Regions from separate parts of the Homo sapiens genome. Here region 1 is linked to region 2. A link means that fine-mapping ties the variant in region 2 to the expression of a gene that starts in the linked region. Tissue or cell type: lung. Region 2 holds a variant in brackets; the other region holds the start of a gene. All regions are shown on one strand. Distances are between the middles of the regions.

Region 1 (8,089 bases), 32 kb before region 2:
GGAAGGTTTAATACTGTTAACATGACAAAAACCACACAAACTGATTCACAGATTCAAGGCAATCGTTATCAAAATCTCAGCTGGCTTTCTTAAAGAAATTGACAAGTTGATCCTAAAATTCACATGAAAATGTAAGGGATCCAGAATAGCCAAGACACTCTTGAAAAAAAAAAAAGTTGTAAGACTCACACTTCCTTGTTTTAAAAGTTACTAAAAAACTACAGTAATGAAGACACTGTGATTATTGTCAAAGGATAGACAAATCAATCAATAGAATAGAATTTAAAATCCAGGAATAAACCCTTAAATTTTGGTCATTTGATTTTTGACAATTGTGCAAACAATTAAATGGGAGAAAAATAGTCTTTTCAACAAATGATGGTGGGATAACTGAATATCCACATGCAAAGAAATCAATTTGGACCACTTACATTAGACACAAAAATTAACCCAAAATGGATCATAAGCTAAAAAGTAAGAGTTTAAACTATAAAACTTCTAGAAGGAAATATAGGTGTAAATCTTCATGATCTTAGATTACACAAAGCCCTCTTAGACATGACACTAAAAACATATATAACATATAGTCTGGCACACAGTAAAACAAACAAAAACCATACGTGACAACAACAAAATAAATTAGACCTCGTGAAAATTAAAAATTTTTATGCTGCAAATAATACCATCAAAAATATGAAAAGATTAAAAAAATGAAAAGATAATGCACAGAGTGGGAGAAAATATTTGCAAATAATCTAATAAGAGATGTATTTCCAGAATATATAAAGAGCTCTGGCCAGGCATGGTGGCTCACACCTATAATCTTAGCACTTTGGGAAGTCAAGGTGGGAAGATCACTTGAGCCCAGGAGTTGAAGATCAGCCTTGACATTATAGGAAGACCTAGTCTCTACAAAAACGAGAAAAACAAATTAGCTGGGTGTGGTGGCATATGCCTATGGGCCTAGCTACTCAGTAGGCTGAAGTGGAAGGATCGCTTGAGCCCAGGAGTTGGAGAGCTGTGATCATGCCATGCACTCCAGTCTGTGCAACAGAGCAAGATCTTGTCTTGAAGAAAAAAAAAAGAAAAGAGAGAACTCTTACAACTCAATGAAAAAAGACAACCCAATTTAAAAATGATTAAAGGATCTGAATAGATAGTTCTCCAAGAAGATATATAAATGGCCAATAAAAACACGAAAACATACCCAACATCATTAGTCATTAGGGAGATGTACATCAAAACTGTAATGAGATACCACTTCACAACCACTAGGATGGTTATGATAAAGAAGATGGGAAAAAAACCAAGTATTGGCAAGGACATTAAAAAAAACTGAAACCTTCACTGGGTATGGTGGCTTACACCTGTAATCTCAGCACTTTGGGAGGCTGAGGCAGGCAGATGGCTTCAGTCCAGGAGATTGAGACCAGCCTGGACAACATGGCAAAACCCCGGCGCTACAAAAAACACAAAATTTAGCAGGGTGTGGTGGCACATGCCTGTAGTCCCAGCTACTAGCGATGTTCAGAATAGAAAAACTCATAGCAACAGAAAATATATTATTGGTTGCCAGAGGTTGAGGAGAGTGGGGAGTAACTGCTAATGGATATGCAGTTACTTTCAGGGTGCTGAAAATACTCTGGATTTAGGTAGAGGTGATGGTTGCAAAACTTTGTGAAGATACTTAAAACTATCAAATTTTACACTTTAAATGAGTAAGTTGTATGGCATGTGAATTATCTTTTTTTAAAAAAATGAGACGGGATCTCACTGTGCATTGTGTTGCCCAGGGACGGAGTCTCGCTGGAGTGCAGTGGTGCAGTCTCAGAGGCTCACAGCAACCTCTGCCTCCTGGGTTTAAGCGATTCTCGTGCCTCAGCCTCCGGAGTAGCTGGGATTACAGGTGCCCGTATATTTTATAATATATTCCATAATTAATCGCTCCGTATTAAACTTGCTGATGCAGGTCTCCAATTACTGAAAAACCTGATACCAAGTTTTTCAATGGGATTTTTTTGTTTGTTTAAGAGATGGGGTCTCACCATGTTGCTCAGGCTGGCCTTGAACTCCTGGGCTCAAGTGATCCTCCAGCCTCAGCCTCTCAAAGGCTGGGACTACAGGCATGTAGCACTTTGCCTGACTCAAGGGGAATTTTTAGTAAGAGTATATAATCCAAGTCTGTAGCAGTTGGAGGATGTCGTACCACGCTGAAGTGTCACACATAACTGATGACTCAGTCCCCCAAGCCTATTTTATCATCGTAAAGAAAGCTATTTCTTTGATTATTCCAACTCTTTCAGCACCAGGACTGCTGCAGGGGCTGGATTCATGCTACCTGTAGTTGCAGTGTAAATTATGTGTCAGAGCCAAGATCCTAGGAAAGTCAAAGACTAGGTTACAAGAGCGATTCTTTTTTTTTTTTTTTTTTTTTTTTTTTGAGACAGAGTCTTGCTCTGTCGCCCAGGCTGGAGTGCAGTGGCACAGTCTTGGCTCACTGCAACCTCCGCCTCCCTGGTTCACGCCATTCTCCTGCCTTAGCCTCCCGAGTAGCTGGGACTACAGGCGCCCGCCACCACGCCCGGCTAATTTTTTGTGTTTTTAGTAGAGACGGGGTTTCACCGTGTTAGCCAGGATGGTCTCGATCTCCTGACCTTGTGATCCGCCCGCCTCGGCCTCCCAAAGTGCTGGGATTACAGGCTTGAGCCACCGCGCCCGGCCAAGGACGATTCTTTCTAATCTTTGGTAAGCCAGTTTTTACAGAATGAAATGCTCTTGGATTGACTGACTTGATTGGGTAAGTATTCATTGGGCTCTTGTTCCATGCAAGGGCAGTCTACAAGGGCCTAGATATGGGGGCCCCCAAAGAAGAAAAATCGGTTTTTCATCATATTTTCTGGTTGAGTTTCTTCCTTTATTATATTTGTTACATATGTTATTAAATTATTTCCATAAAAGAGGTTATGCTGAGCAGGTAACCAAATTCTTGTTCCCCCAAAAGACATGTATAATTCAGACGATTTATGCAATTAGAAGAAGGGAGACTTCATCAGTTAATAAAGTCTAGAACGTGAGGAAGCCCAGTCATTTCCAGGACCTTCAGATGCCCAAGCTGGATCCAGGTTTTCCACCCCGACAGCTCCAGGGAGCACGCTGGAGAGACAGACTTCACCAGCGGGAAGGCGCGGCACCCTACGCGCAAGGAACCTCAAGTCCCAGAATCCTATGAGGACTCCAAATCCCAGAAACCTGCACGCAAATCTATCCCGGGTGCCAAGTCGGCCGACCGCAGACGTGACCAAGTTGCGAGGCTAGGGTGAGGTGTCGTAGAATTTGTCCCTACCATTGTCCCTGCAGGGAAGAGACTTTAGTGATCTAGAGCTGGTCATTGTCTCTTTCACAGCTCGCGTGAAAGCACCCCTCTCGGCGTGTTTGATGCCATGATCAGCGTCTCCCATTCCCTCTGTCCCCTTTCTCTGCCCCCGTAAGGATGGTTCAGCCCGGTATTGAGGCTCCTTGAGCTGGCTGGATGGTTGCGCCCGCCCTACCCCGGAATGTGGGCCTTTGGAGCGAGCGAAGTGGGAGGGACCGACGCAGGAGGTGTCTTGGGCCCGGGCGGCTGTAGAGGCGGCGGCGCCTACGGGCAGTGGGAGGAGCCGCGCGGTTCCGGCTGCTCCGGCGAGGCGACCCTTGGGTCGGCGCTGCGGGCGAGGTGGGCAGGTAGGTGGGCGGACGGCCGCGGTTCTCCGGCAAGCGCAGGCGGCGGAGTCCCCCACGGCGCCCGAAGCGCCCCCCCGCACCCCCGGCCTCCAGCGTTGAGGCGGGGGAGTGAGGAGATGCCGACCCAGAGGGACAGCAGCACCATGTCCCACACGGTCGCAGGCGGCGGCAGCGGGGACCATTCCCACCAGGTCCGGGTGAAAGCCTACTACCGCGGGTGAGTGTCCTGGGACAGGGCGGTGGGCGGGAGGGGACAGGCCGGCTCCACTCGGCCTGGAGGAGGGGAGGGTGAGGGGCTGGAGGTGTTGTGGGCGGATTGGGCTGGGCGGGCGGGCGGCTCCGGTGACTCAGGGTGAGTGACGAAGTGATAGGGGTGGGGGCGAAGCAAGGGGATGCAGTACTGGGGGCGCCCCCAGGTATGGCGGTGCGGGGAGCCGAGGGGCCAGAGTAGGGTCCGAGAAGGAAGCTAGGGTTAGAGTAGGTGCACCTGGTGTGGACGAGAGACTCGCCTCCTGAGAGCTTTGTAGGGGCCTTGCATCCTTAAGTCTGGGTGTATTTGGGGTTGCGAGTTGAGGATTCCAAGTGATGCCTTAGTTAACTCAGTTTGCTGTGGGGATAGAAAACGGGACTTCTTCAGTTAGCTGTCCGTTTTGATTACCAGCAGGCCTAACGCCTCTGGTTCTCTGAGATATACCTCCATCCCCGTTGTGTTCACGTAGTGTATCTGCACTGCCAGTATATTAGACATAGGGGTTGTATTTAAGAATCAAGTCGATGCGTTTTCAGGGACGTGCAGTGGGTACTTACGTGTCGTCAAGATTAAGTTGCATGTGTGTAAATCAAAATTTTGTGAGCCTTTCTTTCTCAGTGTTGTTTCAACGACTACCCGATAGGGTGAGATACTGCAAGGTGAGGAGACTAGCCTAGTTACAGTTTTAAATTCTCTGATCTTCACTCCCTTACTATGGTTACAAGAAAAAACCCAGTTCTAAGTTCATTGTGTTAAATCATTTTCTATCAGTGACGCAAAGTGCCCCCCTTCCTTTAAATTCAGTTGTGGTTTGAATTTTTTTTTGAGATAATTATGTTTAGGAGCATTAGAAACGTGAAATGTTAGTGTGACCATAAAGGTTGGAGACTGAGAAGTCACAGAAAACCCAGCTACTTTGGCTTGCCTTACTGCTTGTCCAGGTAGAAGTAAATTGCTTTAAAAAACTCAAGCAGTGCTAGGTTGAAATTTTAATGCATACTTTTACATTCCTGAGAGGATCAGTGAAGATAGCAAACTCTCAAACTACCTCTCTTGTTTTGATTTCAAAGAAAATCTGAGCCCCTAAATGTTGTATTGATTTGATGTAAGGACTTTTTTTTTTATTATTATACTTTAAGTTTTAGGGTACATGTGCACAATGTGCAGGTTAGTTACATGTGTATACATGTGCCATACTGGTGTGCTGCACCCATTAACTCGTCATTTACATTAGGTATATCTCCTAATGGTATCCCTCCCCCCTCCCCCCACCCCACAACAGTCCCCAGGGTGTGATGTTCCCCTTCCTGTGTCCATGTGTTCTCATTGTTCAATTCCCATCTGTGAGTGAGAACATGCGGTGTTTGGTTTTTTGTCCTTGATGTAAGGACTTTTAAATTTGCTGCCATGAAGCCTCTGGCCTCTGTTTATTATTAGCTTGACTGTATGCAGGAGTAGTTTATTGGAGTTATATTGGACAGTATGATAACTTTGTGTTTAAGCAGGTAAAACTGATTAAGGAGGTTTTTATTTTAAATCAGTACCAAGAAACGTGTGGATATTTTTTAAAGTTTGTAGTTGTCACAAGAGCTGTTTTGACTTGAGGATGGTCAGCCATGAACTTTGCAAGGTGAGAAAAAAGCTTCCTTTGCTTTTTTTTTTTTAAACCCTTACCTGTAATTTGATGAATGAGATGTTTCACTTTATTCTTTTATTTTATTTTTGTTTGTTTGTTTTTGAGACAGGGTCTTACTCTGTTACCCATGCTGGAGTGCAGTGGCACAATCTCGGCTCACTGCATTCTCCGCCTCCCGGGTTCAAGCAATTCGCCTGCCTCAGCCTTCTGAGTAGCTGGGATTACAGGCATGTGCCACCACACCCGGCTAATTTTTGTATTTTTAGTAGAGACGGGGTTTCACCATATTGGCCAGGCATGTCTTGAACTCCTGGCCTCAAATGATGCGCTCGTCTTGGCTTCCCAAATTGCTGGGATTACAGGCATGAGCCACTGCGCCTGGCCCTAAGGCTTTCAATAAATTCTTATTAATTGAGATCATCTTCTCCAATGAGTCTATGAAAGGTAAGAAATTAGTGCTTCTATTTTCCCATTTGTATTAGTTTGACACATGTAAATAGGCCCAGTTAGTAAATGAAAATCATTGTAAACTCCTTTGAGAAGAAATCAAAGTCTTGCTGTACTTCATGAATTTAGATAGCAAATTATCTTGGCTTATTGCTCCAGTTATTAAAAAGAAGAGAATAAGGACATACAGCTTCTTTAGTGTTTGACTGCAATTTTTCCAAGACATTCAAGGTAACATTGTCTTTTAAAATCTGTGAAATTTTGCTGCGGCGCAAATAACCTCTTGCCCATTGTATACTGGTCTTTGCTCAATGAAAGCTTTCTAATGGTACCTTCATTTCAAGCCTCATTTAAAGACAATATCAGCACTCTAAATTGTACCAAATTCCTGTCCTCTGAAATTAGATGTTAAGATTATGTGTTTGTATAGTCTAAACTGATGATTGTGGTATTACATAGTCAGCTGCTCATTAATATAGATGAAGCTAAAATGAGTCACGGACAAGGATAGTTAATAAACAGGTTGGCTAACTAGAACACCTACCTGATTTTAAAATAGAAAATCCTTCCTTTATACCAAGAAATGTGAGAACATTCTGCATTTGAAAAAGTTTTCTTTTCTCTCCAATCTTCTGAAGGGCCATTATTACATAGCATTTCCTCTATCCCTCTACACTTTTCTTTTCTTTTTTTTTTTTTTAAATAGAGACAAGGTCTCACCGTGTTGCCCAGGCTAATCCCAAACTCCTGGGCTCAAGTGATCCTCCTGCCTCAGCCTCTCAAAGTGCTGGGATTACAGGTGTGAGCCACTGTACCTGGCTCCACTACCCTTTTCTAACAATATTTCTTTCCAGTGAATGTTGACTCATTTAATAGCCAGCATTTTTTTTAGTGAAAAAATTGCCCTCTCTTTTCAAAGATGTGTATAGTGTTATTATTCTGTTAAGCTTGATCTCAGTGAAAACGTGTAATCTCTCTAGATCTAATAACATTTAATTTTTTTCTAATTTTTATTTTATTTTATTTTATTTATTTATTTTTTTGGAGATGGAGTCTCGCTCTGTCACCTGGGCTGGAGTGCAGTGGCGTGATCTCGGCTCATTGCAACCTCCGCCTCCCAGGTTCAAGGGATTCTCCTGCGGCTGCCTCCCGAGTAGGTGGGACTACAGGCGCCCACCACCACGCCCAGCTAATTTTTGTATTTTAGTAGAGACGGGTTTTCACCATGTTGGCCAGGTTGGTCTCCCAACTTCTGACCTCAAGTGATCCACCCACCTCGGTCTCCCAAAGTGTTGGGATTACAGGAATGAGCCATCTTGCCCAGCCAATTTACATCTAGTTTTTAAGCAAGAGATTAATAGCACTGAAAATTCAATTTTATTGGACACCACATCTTACTTAGATGCCTTTCTCATGGCCTGCACCCGTCTTTTCCTAGCAAGGAAGCTTTTCAGTGAGGGGCCTTCAGTTATTACCTAGTGCTAGTAGTTTGGAGGAAGAGAAACAGGTTTCATTAATTAGTGATAAACTGTCAATGTATGTGCTTATCCTTATATAAAATTACTTGCTATTATGGGATAGACTTTAACAAGGCAACATCTGGACTGCTCATTTCTTTACATTATATATGTATGGAAATTTTTGCAGAAAGCTTGTGAAAGTTCTTTTTAAACCGCTGCTGTCAAGTAGTAATAACAATACAGAGGATTCCTTCTGTGCACATCTAGAAATAAAAGATTAACTCTTTGCATATTTGGAATAGCTGCTTCAGTGAAGAAGTATGTAGGATTTTTCTTACTGTGAACAAGTCTTGGCAAGACTTGTTTTTGAAAGAAATGCAAGATTATTTTAGCAATATACTTTAGTAATGGTTCTGAGGAAATACAAGTGGTATCTTGAGGGTTGGGGGGATGTTAGCTAATTGGTCTTAGAGCTTCAGCCATGGCACCTAATCCTAGGGCAGCTGATCCATAGCTTGGCCAAAGAGAGAAAAAAATAGAGCATGCTAGCCTGGTGCCAAAAAACCCAAACCAAAC
Region 2 (8,107 bases):
ATAGGTTTTAAAAAAAATCTAGTAATAAACCTTAGAGAAATTTGAAGAAACTATATAAAGAAACAAGAAACTCAATTGAGTGTCATAAAACGAAACTTGAATGAATGGTTTGGGAAAAAGCAACATTATACAAAGTGAATTCCCTGCATATCAATCTGTGAAGAAAACATTTCTCCCAAATTTCCAACAGGATTTTAAATCTGACAAAAATTTCATCAGGAAAAATAAATGCTCAACAATAAACAGGAAAATTTTGAAAAAGAAAGTTTGGAAAGAGAAGACTTTTCCTAATGTTGTATACAGGAATAGTAACAACTGAGAGAAAATATTTGCAACATTTACAACAAAGGATTACTATCTCTATTGTACAATAAATGCCAAGAAGAAATAGATGAAAAATCTACATAATGAGGTATAAATAGTCAATTCATAAATAACAGGCTCAAAAATCACTAATAATTAAAGAAGTTTTGAAATATTAAAGTGAGACATTACTTTTCACCTATTGGACTGGAAAATACAGAATTTAGTAATTATCTCTAAGAAATTAGGGCCAGGTGTGGTGGCTCACACCTGTAATCCCAGCACTTTGGGAGACCAAAACAGGTGGATCACTTGAGGTCAGGAGTTCAAGACCAGCCAGGCCAACATGGTGAAACCCTGTCTCTACTAAAAATACAAAAACTAGCTGGGCATGGTGGTGGGCGCCTGTAGTCCTAGCTACTCAGGAGGCTGAGGCAGAAGAATTGCTTGAACCCAGGAAGTGGAGGTTGCAGTGAGCCGAGATCACGCCACTGCACTCCAGCCTGGGCAACAACAAGACTGTCTCAAAAAAAAAAAAGAAATTAGGAAAGATTGGCCGGGTGCGGTGGCTCACGCCTGTAATCCCAGCACTTTGGGAGGCCGAGGTGGGTGGATCCTGAGGTCAGGAGATCGATACCATCCTGGCTAACACAGAGAAACCCTGTCTCTACTAAAAATACAAAAATTAGCCAGGCGTGGCGGCGTGTGCCTGTAGTCCCAGCTGCTGGGGAGGCTGAGGCAGGAAAATGGCATGAACTTGGGAGGCGGAGCTTGCAGTGAGCCGAGATTGCGCCACTGCCCTCCAGCCTGGGTGACAGAGCGAGACTCCGTCTCAAAAAAAAAAAAAAGAAATTAGGAAAGATACCCTGTTGGTTGAATGAATGTATGTGTCATAACTCTTTTGGAGGACAGTTGGAAATACTTGGCCAAATTTTAAATGGGCAGACTTTTTTTTGTTAATTTTTTACTTTAATTTTAATGGATACATAGTAGGTGTATGTGTTTATGGGGTACATGAGCTATTTTGATGCAGGCATACAGTGCATAATCATGTTGCGTAAATGGGATATTCATCACCTCAAGCATTTATCATTTATTTGTGTTACAAATATTCCAATTATACTCTTTTAGTTATTTTTAAATATACAATAAATTTTGTTGACTGTAATTACCCTGTTGTGCTATCAAGTACTAGATCTTTTTTTTCTTTTTTACTTTTTCTAACCTTTTTTTTTTTCTGAGACAGTGTCTCACTCTTGCTCAGGCTGGAGTATAGTAGCATGATCACAGCTCACTGCAGCCTTGACCTCCCATGCTCAAGCAGTCCTCCTGCCTCAGCCTACTGAGACTACAGGCTTGAGCCACCATTCCTGGCTGTTTTTTAAAATTTTTTGTAGAGATGGAGGTCTCACTGTGTTGCCCGGGGTGGTCTTGAACCAAATACTAGATCTTACTCATTCTGTGTGAGTATAGTTTTGTACCCACTCTCCACCACTATCGTTCCCAGCTTCTGGTAGCTATCATTCTACTCTCTATCTCCATGAGTTCAACTGTTTTAATTTTTAGCTTCCACAAATGAGTGAGAACATAAGGTTTGTCTTTCTGTATCTGGCTTATTTCACTTGACACAATGTCTTCCAGTTTCATCCATGTTGTTGCAAGTGACAGGATCTCATTCTTTTTTGTGGCTGAATAGTACTCCCATTGTATTGCTAGACACTTAAGTTGCTTCCAAATCATGGCTATTGTGAATAGTGCTGCAATAAATATGGGAGTGTACATATCTCTTCAATATACTGATTTCCTTTCTTTTGGGTGTATATCTAGTGGTGGGATTTCTGGATCATATGGTAGGTGTGTGTTTAGTTTTCTGAGAAATCTCTATACTGTTCTCCATAGTGACTGTACTAAAGTACATTCCCACCAACAGCATGTGAGGGTTCCCTTTTCTGCATATCCTTTCCAGCATTTGTTATTGCCTCTCTTTTGGATAAAAACCATTTTAACTGGAATGAGATGATATCTTGATGTAGTTTTGATTTGCAGTTCCCTGATGATCAATGATGTTGAACACCCTTTCATATACCTGTTTGCCGTTTGTATGTCTCCTTTTAAAAATGTCTGTTCAGGAGCCGGGCACAGTGGCTCACGCCTGTAATCCCAGCACTTTGGGAGGTTGAGGTGGGCAGATCTTGAGGTCAGGAAATCGAGACCATCCTGGCTAACATGGTGAAACCCCGTCTCTACTAAAAATCCAAAAAATTAGCCGGGCGTGGTGGCAGGTGCCTATAGTCCCAGCTACTCAGGAGGCTGAGGCAAGAGAATGGCATGAACCTGGGAGGCAGAGCTTGCAGTGAGCCGAGATCGTGCCACTGCACTCCAGCCTGGGCGACAGAGCAAGACTCCATCTAAAATAAAAAAAAATGTCTATTCAGGGCTAGGGATGGTGTCTCACGCTTGTAATCCCACCACTTTGGGAGGCCGAGGCGGGCGGATCACTTGAGGTCAGGAGTTCCAGACCAGCCAGGCCAACATGGTGAAACCCTGTCTCTACTAAAACTACAAAAATTAGCTGGGCATGGTGGCACGTGCCTGCAATCCCAGCTACTTGGGAGGCCGAGGCAGTAGAACTACTTGAACCCAGGAGGCAGAGGTTGCAGTGAGCCAAGATTACGCCACTGCACTCCAGCCTGGGTGACAGAGCAAGATCCGTTTCCAAAAAAAAAAAAGGAAAAATGTCTATTCATATCTTTTGCCCATTATTTAATCAGATTATTAGGTTTTTTTTTTCCTATTGAGTTGTTTGAACTCCTTGTCTATTCTGGTTATTAATCCTTTGTCAGATGCATAGTGTGCAAATATTTTCTCCCATTCTGTGGGTTGTCTCTTCATTTTTTTGATTGCTTTGTTTTGCAGAAACCTAAGTTGATGTGATCCCACTTACCTATTTTTGCTTTGATTACCTGTGATTGCGGGGTGCTACTCAAGAATTACTTGCCTGGACCAGTGTCATGGAGAGTTTCCACAGTTTTTTCTTTTAGTAGTTGCATAGTTTGAGGTTTTGGATTTAAGTCTTTAATTCATTTTGATTTGATTTTTGTATATGGCGAGAAATAGGGGTCTAGTTTCATTCATTCTTCTGCATGTGGATATCTTGTTTTCCCAGCACTATTTATTGACAGTCTTATTTATTGAAGGCTGTCTTTTCCCCAGTGTTATGTTCTTGGCACCTTTGTAAAAAATGAGTTCACTCTAGATGTATGGATTTATTTCTGGGTTCTCTCTTCTGTTCCATCGGTTTATGTGTCTGTTTTTATGCCAGCACCATCCTGCTTTGGTTACTACAGTTTGTAGTATAATTTAAAGGCATAGAATGTGATCCCTCCAGTTTTGTTCTTTTTGTTCAGGCTAGCTTTGGCCATTCTGGGTCTTTTGTGGTTCCATATAAATTTACAATGATTTTTTTCTATTTCTGTGAAGAATGTTATTGGTATTTTGATAGGGATTACACTGAATCTGTAGATTGCTTTCAGTAGTATGGACATTTTAACAGTATTGATTCTTCCAATCCATGAACATGGAATATCTTTCCTTTTTTTTTTTTAATGTGTATGTCTTCTTCAGTTTCTTGTATCAGTATTTTATGATTTTCATTGTAAAGAAAGAGATCTTTCACTTTTTTTTTTTTTTTTTTTTTTGAGACAGAGTTTCACTTTTGTTGCCCAGGCTGGAGTGCAATGGCACGATCTCAGCTCACTGCAACCTCCACCTCCCGGGTTCAAGTGGTTCTCCTGCCTCAGTCTCCCGAGTAGCTGGGATTACAGGGATGCACCACCATGCCTGGCTAATTTTGTATTTTTAGTGGAGACGAGGTTTCTCCATGTTAGTCAGGCTGGTCTCGAACTCCTGACCTCAGGTGATCCTCCCACCTCGGCCTCCCAAAGTGCAGGGATTACAGGTGTGAGCCACCGCGCCTGGCTGAGATCTTTCACTTCTTTTGTGATACTTATTCATAGGTATTTTTTTATTTGCAGTTACTGTAAATGGAATTACTTTTTTGATTACTTTTTCAGATTATTTGCTGTGGCATATAGAAATGCTACTGATTTTTGTGTGGTGATTTCATATCCTTCGACTTTACTGAATTAGTTTATCTGTTCTAATAGTTTTTTTGTGGAGTCTTTAGGTTTTTCCAAATATATAAGATGATATCATCTGCAAACAAGGATAATTTGACTTCTTCTTTTCTAATTTGGATGCCCTTTATTTCTTTCTCTTGTCTCATTGCTCTAGCTTGGACTTCCATTACTATGTTGAATAATAGTGGTGAAAGTGGGCATCCTTGTCTTGTTCCAAATCTTAGAGAAAGACTTTCAATTTTCTCCCATTCAGTATGATACTAGGTGTGGGTCTGTCTTATATGGCTTTTATCGTGTTGAGGTATGTTCCTTCTATCCCCAGTTTTTTTTGGATTTTTGTCATGAAGGGATGTTGAATTTTACCAAATGCTTTTTTTAGCATCAATTGAAATGATAGTATGATTTTTGTCCTTTATTCTGTTGTATCATGTTTTATTCTGTTCTATCATGTGATATATCACGTTGATTGATTTGCATGTGTTGAACCATCCTTGCATCCCTGGAACA[A/G]ATTCCAGTTGGTCATGATGAATGATCTTTTTAATGTGTTGTTGAATTCAGTTTGCTAGTGTTTTGTTGAGGATTTTTGCATCAATGTTCATCAGAGATATTGACCTGTAGTTTTCTCTCTTTTTGACATATTTGTCTGGTTTTAGTAATACTGATGAGTATTACTGGGTCTTAGAATGAGTTTGAAACTATTCCCTCCTCCTCCATATTTTGGAATATTTTGAGTAGGATTGGTATTAGTTTTTCTTTAAATGGCACTGAAGCCATTGGATCCTGGGCTTTTCTTTGCTGAGAGACTTTTTATTATGGCTTCGATCTCATTACTTGTTAGTACTCTAGTCAGGCTTTGGATTTCTTCATGGTTCAATCTTGGTAGGTTGTATGTGTCTAGGAATTTATCCATTTCTTCTAGGCTTTCTGATTTGTTGGCATATAGTTGCTCATCGTAGCCTCTAATGATCCTTTGAGTTTCTGCAGTATTAGTTGTATTGTCTCCTTTTTCATCTGTGATTTGATTTCTTTGGGTCTTGTATCTTTTATTTTTAGTCCGGTTAAAGGTTTGTTGATACTATTTGTCTTTTCAAAAAAATCAAGTTTACATTTTGTTGATCTTTTGTGTGTTTTGTTTCAATTTCATTCATTTCTGCCCCGATCTTTATTACTTCTTTTCTTCTACTAATTTTGTGTTTGGTTTGCTCTCGCTTTTCTTGTTCTTTAAGATGCATCATTAGTTTGTTCATTTAGCGCCTTTCTCCTTTTTTTGATGTGGGCACTTATTGCTTGCTATAAACTCACCTCTTAGTACTGCTTTCACTGTATCCCATTGGTTTTGGTAGTAGTTGTGTTTCTATTTTCATTTTTTTCAAGAAATTTTTCAATTTTTTTCTTAATTTTGTATTGACCCCCTGCTTAATAAGGGGCATATTGTTAACTTTCATGTGTTTTTGTAGTTCCCAAAGTCCATCTTGTTACTGATTTCTAGTTTTGTTCCATTGTGGTCAGAGAAGATACTTGTTAGTTTTTGTAGGTTAGTAACAATATTTGGATTATACTAAGGAGTTTTTATCTAGAGTTATAGAGATTTTCTTAGAATGCTGCCATGGTAGAGAATAAGTGGGTGGGTATATAGGGGAAAACAACATTTTGAAATATGTTTCAAATTTTCCAGATTAAACAGTTAAAAAGAACAGGTGGTGAACCTAGAGAATAGTGTTTTAGAAACCGAGACACAGGATTTCTTAATAGTGGGCAACTTTGTCAGGGACTGCAAGAGAGATCACCTAGAATAAGGACTGAAAAGATGTCATAGGTTTCAGCAGCTGGTTTCATGACCTTTGCAACCGCAGTTTTGGTGGAGTGTTTGGGCTAAAACCTGGCAGCAGCATTTTGAGAAATGTGTGGAAGGTAAGAACATGGAGAAAGGATATGATCACTATGTGAAAAAAAGTTGTTTCATTATAAAAGATTACAAACTTATGATTTTTAAAATATTAAAGAGAAGTATGAAGTGAAAAAAAACCCTGCCCCTTTTCCTTTCTCATCTTCTCACCTGTTTCCTCCAGTTTTAGTCTCTAGTTTTACTCTTGAGATTTGTGGCTACTGAATGAATGGAGTGTCAATCTGAATGGGAAAGAGAATTTTTTTTTTTTTTTTTTTGAGACAAAGTCTCGCTCTTGTTGCCCAGGCTGGAGTGCAATGGTGTGATCTCGGTTCGCTGCAACCTCCGCCTCCCAGGTTCAAGCGATTCGCCTGCCTTAGCCTCCTGAGTAGCTGGGACAACAGGCACGTGCCACCACGCCCAGCTAATTTTTGTGTTTTCGTAGAGACGGGGTTTCACCATGTTGGCCAGGCTGGTCTCAAACTCCTGACCTCAGGCGATCCACCCACCTTGGCCTCCCAAAGTGCCGGGATTCCAGGTGTGAGCCACTGCACCTGGCCTGAAAGAGGTTTTTGAGAGGGAGACTCAGAAACGCCTTTGCCTGAGAAGAGCTAGGAAATAGAAGGAAAGAAAAAAATGGAACAGAGGAGCTCAGAGAAGATAAAAGGAAGTAGGGATGCAGTGGTCAAGTGGGAGAAAAAAAAGGAGAGGCACTCTTTTCTTTGAGTAGCCAGGAAAAAATGACTTTGTTTTTCTTTCTCAATTAGCAGACCAAGCTGTATGCTGGTGATTGAGGTTTGGATAGGGTTGGTGGCATCTAGTGTGTAGTAACTATGGGAATTAGCAAATCAATGGCAGAGTGAAGGACTCACTTTCACTCGCTCAGGTCCAAACTAGGCTTTAAATGACTTCTTTTTTTTTTGAGACAGTCTTGCTTTGTTGCCCAGGGTGGAGTTCAGTAGCACAATCTTGACTCACTACACCCTCTGCTTCCTAGGTTCAAGCGATTCTTCTGCCTTAGCCTCCCGAGTAGCTGGGACTGCAGGCACACACCACTGTGCCTGGCTAATTTTTGTATTTTTAGTGGAGATGGGCTTTCATCATGTTGGCCAGGCTGGTCTCGAACTCCTGACCTCAACCCGCCTGCCTCGGCCTCGCAAACTGTTGGGATTACAGGCCACCACACCTGGCCTGAATGACTTTTTCACTGAGGAATGCCATAGTCCAGGCAGATGTGCCACCTCATTGATCGCCAGGGATGACTCAGTTGTCTGGCTAGTTGGGTAAGGGAGGTGTTTTTTCCATCACTTCTGTGTGTCTGTTACTAAAACTGTTCATTTATATTTCACAGCAGCTCAAGTGCAACTGTTCTTCAGTACTTTTGTAGCTTTTCATTTCTGTGACTCCTTTGAGGAGGCTCTGTCATGTGAAAGGAAAAATTTGATAAAATGATTACATGGAGACTTCTAACTAATCGTATTGTGGCAATGGAACTACTTTCACTTCCTCTTTTAAAGAAACAGGTAACAGAAAGCCTCCTCTTTAGACTTTCCCATTAGACACATAGCAGTGACAATTTAAACTGTGGTCAGTAGCCAGGCATGGTGGTGCACTTCTGTAGTCCCAGCTATTTGGAAGGCTGAGGCAGGAGAATCGCTTGAACCCAGGAGGCGGAGGTTGCAGTGGGCCAAGATAACACCATTGCACTCCAGCCTGGGCAACAAGAGCCAAACTCCATCTCAAAAAAAAAGAAAAAAAATGTGGTCAGGAATAGATTCTG

What was found. PIP is the estimated chance that this variant, and not a neighbour inherited with it, causes the effect.
Region 1: PRKCI starts here. The variant in region 2 is fine-mapped to the expression of PRKCI in lung (TOPMed, PIP above 0.99).

What each region holds. Positions count from the first base shown.
Region 1 is chr3:170,218,834-170,226,922 of GRCh38, forward strand. PRKCI (protein kinase C iota) reads left to right here and starts at 3,591. Exons shown (of 18, transcript NM_002740.6): 1 at 3,591-3,937. The coding sequence starts at 3,837. RefSeq lists enhancers at 3,122-3,181, 3,252-3,311, 3,322-3,481 and a silencer at 3,662-3,951.
Region 2 is chr3:170,251,077-170,259,183 of GRCh38, forward strand. The region is part of intron 2 of PRKCI (protein kinase C iota); the gene reads left to right. Among named protein-coding and RNA genes, the nearest start is that of PRKCI, 33 kb to the left of the region's middle. The variant A/G (reference allele first, on the strand shown) is at 4,950.